Homo sapiens: one gene and its partner. The protein of the gene in region 1 purifies or fractionates together with the protein of each later gene. This does not show direct contact. Each region holds a gene or a part of one and is shown on either strand. Other genes may lie near its edges. The genes, in order: CHDH and COQ8B.

Region 1 (3,913 bases):
ACACCTTCTAAGATCTCCTTTTGATGGTTTGAATGATTTGAGTTTGGGCAAAATTGTCAATCATTTATTTGTCTTTTAAAAAATGAACTCTAAGGGATATCATCAGATTTTTTTTTCCTTTTTCTGAGACAGAGTCTCACTTTGTCACCCAGGCTGGAGTACAGTGGCGCAGATCTCGGCTCACTGCAACCTCTGGCTCCCGGGTTCAAGTGATTCTCCTGCCTCAGCCTCCGGAGTAGCTGGGATTACAGGCGCCTGCCACCATGCCCGGCTACTTTTTGTATTTTTAGTAGAGACGGGGTTTCACCATGTTAGCCAGGCTGTTCCCAAACTCCTGACCTCAGGCAATCCGGCCGCCTCAGCCTCCCAAAGTGCTGGGATTACAGGCGTGAGCCACCGAGCCCGGCCAGACTTGACTTTTTTTTTTTTTTTTTAACAAATGAGCCATCATACCAGGAGCTGAGTTCTTATCAAACGGCCGGTGAGAGGCCAAGCAACAACCCTAAATGCTACCAAGCTCAAATTGTTGGCCTTGCAGCAACTACAGCAAAAGGGATGAATTCTTCCCTTTAGTGCAAAGAGCCAAGAGGGCTTCTGAACTGACACAGAGGGGAAGGATAGGAGCTGAAGACATCAGGAAACAGTGAATGGGGTTTGTCCACCAGCAGGTGACTACGGAGCTTGATGCTATATGCTATTCTAAGAGGGCAGCGGTATCATTTCAAAGGTTATTTGGGGGATGAGCTATTTTCTCTTCAGTGACCCAGAAGATTCCCTCGATCATTCAGGGTACTGGGGAAGAAAGGCAACTGCCTTCACGAGTGAACATGGCAATCAATATGGCCAAAAAGGGAGGGGGTACTAATGGAGAAACAGTTCTTGTGCCCCAACAGGTGAGCAGACCCCAAGTAACAATAACTACGTGCCAGGCCCTTCGCCGCTAATTGCAGGCCATGTCGTTATACCTTAAGAGACCCTGGTGGGTTCGGTACTGCCCTTCGTTTTACCGTTCGGGACTTGGAACTTGGTGAGCATAAATGACAGAACCAACAGTACAGGGTGGCATCTGAGACCGGGTCTGTCTGATTCCCACGCCCCTGACTCAAGCAACCTGACGCCGATGTCCGGGGCTGCCCTGAGGGTGCAGGCATGCCCCTTGAGCCGGCAGTCCGCGCACGCCTTCGGGGCAGCCTGGACTGGCGGATCAGACGACGTCAGGATCTGGGCTCGAGGGCCGGGAGATGAGGGAAGAGGTGCTGGCGGGGGCTTACCGGCTCTCGGGGTACGGCGCTCCTGCACAGCGCGGCCAGGCTTAGCAGCACGAGCGACATCGCCGGGCCACTGCGCGGGATCCAGGCCACCCGCACGCTGCGCTTTTATCCCGGCGCCGCCGGGCCGCCCCTTCTCGGCTCCGCCTCTCGCAGCGCCGACCCATTCCCGCCACCCGAACAGAGGGCGGGCCCGCTGGCCCCCTCCCAGGCTGGGGCAGGTCGCAGCGCCCTCGCCTGCTGGGGCTCGGAGGGATGGGCCGTGTCCGAGCGCTGGCGGAGCACGGGCCGCCGCGGCGCGCGCCTACCCCCGCGCACACGTGCATGCAGTGAGCCAGGTGCATCAGCTGCACCCGCCCTCGGGCTTCGCGCGCCTCCGCTGGAGCCCAGCTAGCCTCGCGGCTCCGGGGCCGACCGGGTCGGAACTGCTGCGTCCCCATTCCGGACGCAGAGAGCGCGCGGGGCGCCGGCGCCGCCGGTTAAAGTGCCGCGGGGCAGGGGCCGGGCCGCGGCCACCCGCTCCTCCCGCTCCGGTCCCGACTGTCGGGCTCTCGGCCGAGTCGCCCCGGGTGAGTAGCCGCGGAGGCGCCCCGACCACCCCGCAGCAGCGCCGCCCGGCCGCTAGCCCGGAGAGGCCTGGGGGCCGGAGGTTTGGGGCCGGGCTGGACGCCGAGACCCGGGCCCGCTTTACACAATCGCCCCGCCGCGCGAAGCGAAACGGGTGGAACGCAGACTGCCGAAGCTCACTGACTCCTTTGAGGGAGCGAATTCTTTCAGCTACGCGGGGTTAGAGCGGTAGGAGTGCCCGCTGCCCGACCCCAGGCTTTCTGGTAAATGTCTGTTTCCACCAAGTGAGTTCGGACAGCAACACCTGGGGCTCCCAAAGCGGAAGCCGTCAGCACTGGCGATTTGGAGCTGCGGTTCTCAAGTTTCCCTGGCCCGGGATCTCTAGCGCCGCCTAAAATGAGATCCAGACGGCAGGTCCGGGTCAGGCCCGGGATCTGCATTTAACGAGCCTCCACCCACGCCCCCGTAATTCGTGGGTGGGTGGCCCAGGGACCATCCTTTGAGACACAGTGGGTTTGGGGGAAAGTTCACAAAAATCAGCTGGGCTAACAGTGGAGTCACAGAGGCTGGAACTGCTGCTTCAGCCCCCTCGGTTTGCAAACGACAGGGTTGTGGTGACCAACTCAGGGCCATTTAAACTTGTAGGCAGAATTAGCTCCATTCTACAGATGAGAAGACGGAGGCCTAGAGAGGGGTATGGAACTTAGGGGTGTGTTGTCAGCTGGTGAGAGGCTGTACTAAGTCAAGCAGCTGTTTTAGCTGAGGCCCTACTTGTGTGCCAGGCCTGGCCCACCTGCCAGCTTGATTAAGGCTTGCATGGACTGGGGATCAGCCAGGGGTTTGGGCTCTGGCATGCATACGTGTGGAGTTGCAGGTAGCATTTTCAGAGAATTGCTCTGTTTCCTGACCAAGGAACTCAGTTGAGGTTGTGGCCGCACCCCTGCCTGGGACTGGGCCACCCTGAGCCCCTCATTCCACCTCTCTGAGTTGCTTTGGGCCCTGTGGCCCTTGAGAACATTTTCAGCTCTAATAGTCATCTTCCTGTTCAGCAAATACCTGCTGGGTGCAAAGGTGAACCACACATGGGTGCTGGCTGATGGGTACTCCTGGAGTGAGGATGAGTGCAGTGAGAATTATTTTCAAGGACACAAGTACCCGCCTTGCTGCGGAAGCCCAGATGAAAACAGCCTCGTCTGCAAGCTCAAGATTGTGAACTTTGTCCCATGGTGCTGAGGAACAATGGTACAGGCTTAAATGGTCATCCATTTTTGGTTTTAGAAAGGCCACCTGGTTGGCTCTGCAGGGCAAAATAGAGGGCTAGTCCCTCTGAGACGAGCGAGCAGGCAGCCATTCACTAACATGCGTTCATTCCGTGAGTATCTGATTCTGTGCTGTGGGCCAGGCTCTGGGCTGTGCTGGCTTTTCAGTTGTGTGCCAGGGCAGGCCCTGCTGTGAGCTTGGTGTTGTTCGGCACACAGGCTTTGAGACAACCAGGGTGCGGAGGTTAGGCCTGGAGACAGGGTTCATGAGTCAGACTTTCTCAGGGGGCAGTGGAGAGGAGAGGAGGATAGAGCCCTGGGGAGGAGAGCTTGCCTGAGGAGGTGGGGAGGTCTAAGGGGCTGCAGCAGGAAAGCCCAGTAGTGAGGGAGGAGCTCATGGGGTCAGATGGGGCAGAGAGACCAAGGGCACTGAGGCTGGTTGGTGGCAGTCACAGGAAGCCTTGGCAAAAGGATAGGGGAGGGGGTTTTGTAAAAAGAGAAGGGCTGAGGTTCTTTCTCCCCCCAGGGGAAGAAGTGTCAGGTGAGGGTGGTCTGGAGGTGGCTGAGCTGTAAGAAGGAGGAGTACTCAGGCAGGGGCTGCCAGGCAGAGACCCAAGACCCAGGCCAAGTGGCTTTCCTGCTGTTCTGGGTTCAGAATGACACTGCCCTGGCCCCCTGGGGCTTAGGGATGGGGTGATACCTGGTTCAGTTTCGTAGTTGGGGCTGTGGAGTGGAGGAGAGGGTGTGAAGGGCCCTGTAGCCACAACTGGAGGTTGAGGTGGGCAAACAGGTGTGTCTGCCTGTCCCCTCGGGGGTTTT
Region 2 (3,813 bases), on another chromosome or scaffold:
AAATTTAGCCAGGCGTGGTGGGCGCGTGCCTGTAATCCCAGCTACTCGGGAGGCTGAGGCAGGAGAATCGCTTGAACCCGGGAGGTGGAGGTTGCAGTGAACCAAGATTGTGCCACCACACTCCAGCCTGGGCAACAGAGCGAGACTCCATCTCAAACAAAAGAAAAAATAAAAAGAGTTGGGAGACAAGCATTCTTGGAGAAAAACTGAGAAAGGAGAGTGGGTTAGGCTGGGGGCACCCCAGGCAAACGGGCACTCATGTTCTTCTCTTGCACTCCAGGACTGGCTGTGGGCTTGGGGCTAGGAGTACTGGCCGAGATGGCTAAGAAGTCCATGCCAGGAGGTCGTCTGCAGTCAGGTGAGTGAGCCACACTGCCTGGGTTCAGATCCTGGCTTTGCTGTGTGACCTGGGGCAAGTGACTTCACCCCTCTGAGCTCCAGTTTCCTCATGCGGAAGATGGAGGTGGTGATAATTTACCCACCTCTTAGAGTCATTGTGAAGTGCTTTGAACAGGCCTAAACCACTATCAGGGTCATGATTAAGAGAAGCATATTAGATTTTTTTTTTTTAATTTGAGATGGAGTCTCACTCTGTCGCTCAGGCTGGAGTACAATGGCGCAGTCTTGGCTCACTGCAACCTCCACCTCCCAGGTTTAAGCAATTCTCCTGCCTCAGCCTCCCAAGTAGCTGGGATTATAGGCACATGCCACCACGCTTGGTTAATTTTTGTATTTTTAGTAGAGACGGTTTCACCATGTTGGCCAGGCTGGTCTTCAACTCCTGACCTCATGATCCACCCGCCTTGGCCTCCCAAAGTGCTGGGATTATAGCATGAGCCACTGTGCCCAGCCACATATTAGATTATCTGAGAAAACATTTAAGCCATTGGGAGTTCCTAACTTGGAGCAGGAGCAGAAAGCTGAAAATAGAAGTGCCAGCGAGGGTCTGTGTACATCAGAGATGGAATTAGATGTGTAGCATTTGCCGTTATAAAAAATAAAATAAAAAGTTGAGGGTAGGTGGAGGTTCCCTCAACAAGTCAATGTCTTGAAACAAGTGGGGGTGGATATTCCAGATTAAAAACAGATGAAAGAGACATTATTTGACAAATGGAGCATCTGAACCATGATTGCATATCAGTTTGGAAAAAACAGCCATGAAAGACTTTTTGGAGACAAATGGAAAATCTGAATATGGACTGCATGGCAGATGTTAAGGAATTGGTGTTAATTTTCTTACATGTGATTATGGTACTGTGATTGTGTAGGGGAATATCCTTATTCTTAGCAAAGCTTAAGTGCAACTACATGCAAGTGGGTCAGCAAAAAATAATAATAGTAAGTGTGTGGGTACACGCACAGATAAAGCAGACGAAGCAGAATGGTACCATGTTGAATCGAGGTGGAGGGTGTGCGGGTGTGCAGGTGTTCACGATATTATGCATGCAACTTTTCTGTTTGGATTTTTTTCTGTCTTTTTTTTTTTGGAGACAGGGTCTTGCTGTGTCACCCAGGCTGGAATGCAATGGTACGATCATGGCTCACTGCAGCCTTGACTTCCCCAGGCTCAGGTGATCCTCCCACCTCAGCCTCCTGCATAGCTGGGATTATAGACACGTGCCACCACGCCTGGCTAATTTTTTGTATTTTTTGTAGAGAGAAGGTTTTGCCATGTTGCCCAGGCCGGTCTGGAACTCCTAGCCTCAAGTGATCCTCCCTGCTCAGCCTCCCAAAGTGCTGGGATTACAGGCATGAGCCACCACACCCAGCCTGGATATTTTTTTCAAAATAAAAAGTTGAGGGTAGGTGGAGGATTAGGGTTTGGGTATGACCAGCCTGAGTCTACACCCCACTCTGCCACTTCCATGCTATGTGACCCAGGGATAGGTGCTGCACCTCTTTGAGTCTCTTGCTTTCTCACCTTGAAAATTAAAGGATTGATAATTCTTACTTCCAGGTGTGATTGTGGGCATTCAGCCAGAGAATCCACAAAGACACTTAGGATTCTGCCTGGAACAGCTCAATAATGAGCTCAATAACATTTTATTTTATTTTAAATTTTATTTTAAGAGATAGAGTCTTGCTGTCACCCAGGCTAGAGTGCAGTGGTGAGTCATGGCTCACTGCAGCTTTGAACTTCTGGGCTCAAGAGATCCTCTTACCCTGGCCTCCTAAAGTGCTGGGATTACAGCTGTGAGCCACCACAACTGGCCTTCAAAATTAATAAAGGCTTAAGAATTGCTTTGTTGTGCTGTGCTTGCTTCAGCATCACATATAAATAAAAATTGGAATGAGACAGAGAAAATTAGCACGGCCTCTGTGCAAAGATGACACATAAATTCATAAAGTGTTCATATTAAAAAAAGAAAAATAAATGTTTTGCCAAAGCTGAAATGTAATTTGCATATAAACCCAGGTACACATACCTGTAAGTGTATGGCTTGGTGCGTTTTCACAAAGTACATTTGTCCGTACCCAGAGTAAGAAACCCTAGAATAGCTGCTCTCAAACTTCTTGGTCTCAGGATCCCTGCACACCTTTAAAACTGATGAATGGATGAATAAAATGTGATAGGCATACAATGGAATATTATCCAGCCATAAAAAGGAATGAAGGGCTGACACATGCTGCAATGTAGATGAATCTTGAAAACACTAAGTGAGGCCGGTTGCGGTGGCTCACGCCTGTAATCCCAGCACTTTGGCAGGCCGAGGCAGGTGGATCACCTGAGGTGAGGAGTTCAAGACCAGCCTGTCCAATATGGCGAAATCCTGATTCTACTAAAAATACAAAAAATTAGCTGGATGTGGTGGTGGGTGCCTGTAACCCCAGCTACTTGGGTGGGGGGTAAGGCAGGAGAATTGCTTGAACCGGGGAGGCGGAGGTTGCAGTGAACCAAGATCATGCCATTGTACTCCAGCCTTGGAGACAGAGCGAGACACTGTTTCAAAAAAAAAAAACACTAAGTAAAAGCAACCACACACTGAAAAACCACATATTGAATGATTCCATTAATATGAAATGTACAAAATAGGAAAATCTGTAGGGACATAAAGTAGATTAGTGGTTGTCAAGGCCTGGGGAGATTGGGGGAAATGAAGAGTGACTGCTAATGGGTATAGGGTTTCTTTTTTTTTTTTCTTTTTTTGAGACAAGGTCTCACTCTGTCACCCAGGCTGGAGTGCGGTGGCGGGATCACGGCTCACTGTAACCTCTACCTCCTGGGTCCAAGTGATCTTCCTGCCTCAGCCTCCTGAGTAGCTGGGACTATAGGCATGCACCACCATGCCCAGCTAATTTTTGTATTTTTTGTAGAAACAGGGTTTTACCATATTGCCCAGGCTGGTCTCAAACTCATGAACTCAAGTGATCCCGCCCCGACGTCCCAAAGTGCTGGGATTACAGGCATGAGCCAGCACTCCCAGCCAGGTTTCTTTTTTGCGTGGTGTAACTGTCCTAAAATTGATTCTGGTGATGCTTGCACAACTCTGTGAATATACTAATAATCATTGAATTATATAACTTAAATGGTGAATTATAACAGTATGTGAATTATTTCTCAATAAAACTGTTAGAATGAGCCTCCAAAGAGCTTATTTATGTGGATTATAGTTATCAATGTCTACCATATTAGAAATTAAAACTGAGAAATTTTTAGGCCAGGTGCGGTGGCTTACGCCTGTAATCCCAACACTTTGGGAAGCTGGGGCGGGAGGATCCCTTGAGGTCAGGAATTTGAGACCAGTCTGAGTGACATAGCGAGGCCCCATTTTTACAGAAAGTAAAAATATTAGCCAAGCATGGTGGTGCATA

What was found.
Region 2: the proteins of CHDH (region 1) and COQ8B purify together in Homo sapiens (co-immunoprecipitation; one large-scale study listed by IntAct). This does not show direct contact.

Annotation. Positions count from the first base shown.
Region 1 is NC_000003.12:53,844,007-53,847,919, reverse strand, and holds the start of CHDH (choline dehydrogenase, mitochondrial), read left to right. Parts: upstream 1-1,500; 5' UTR 1,501-1,837; intron 1,838-3,913. Other genes in the region: IL17RB (interleukin-17 receptor B precursor), read right to left, coding at 1,272-1,331.
Region 2 is NC_000019.10:40,706,604-40,710,416, reverse strand, and holds part of COQ8B (atypical kinase COQ8B, mitochondrial), read left to right. Parts: intron 1-280; coding exon 281-358; intron 359-3,813.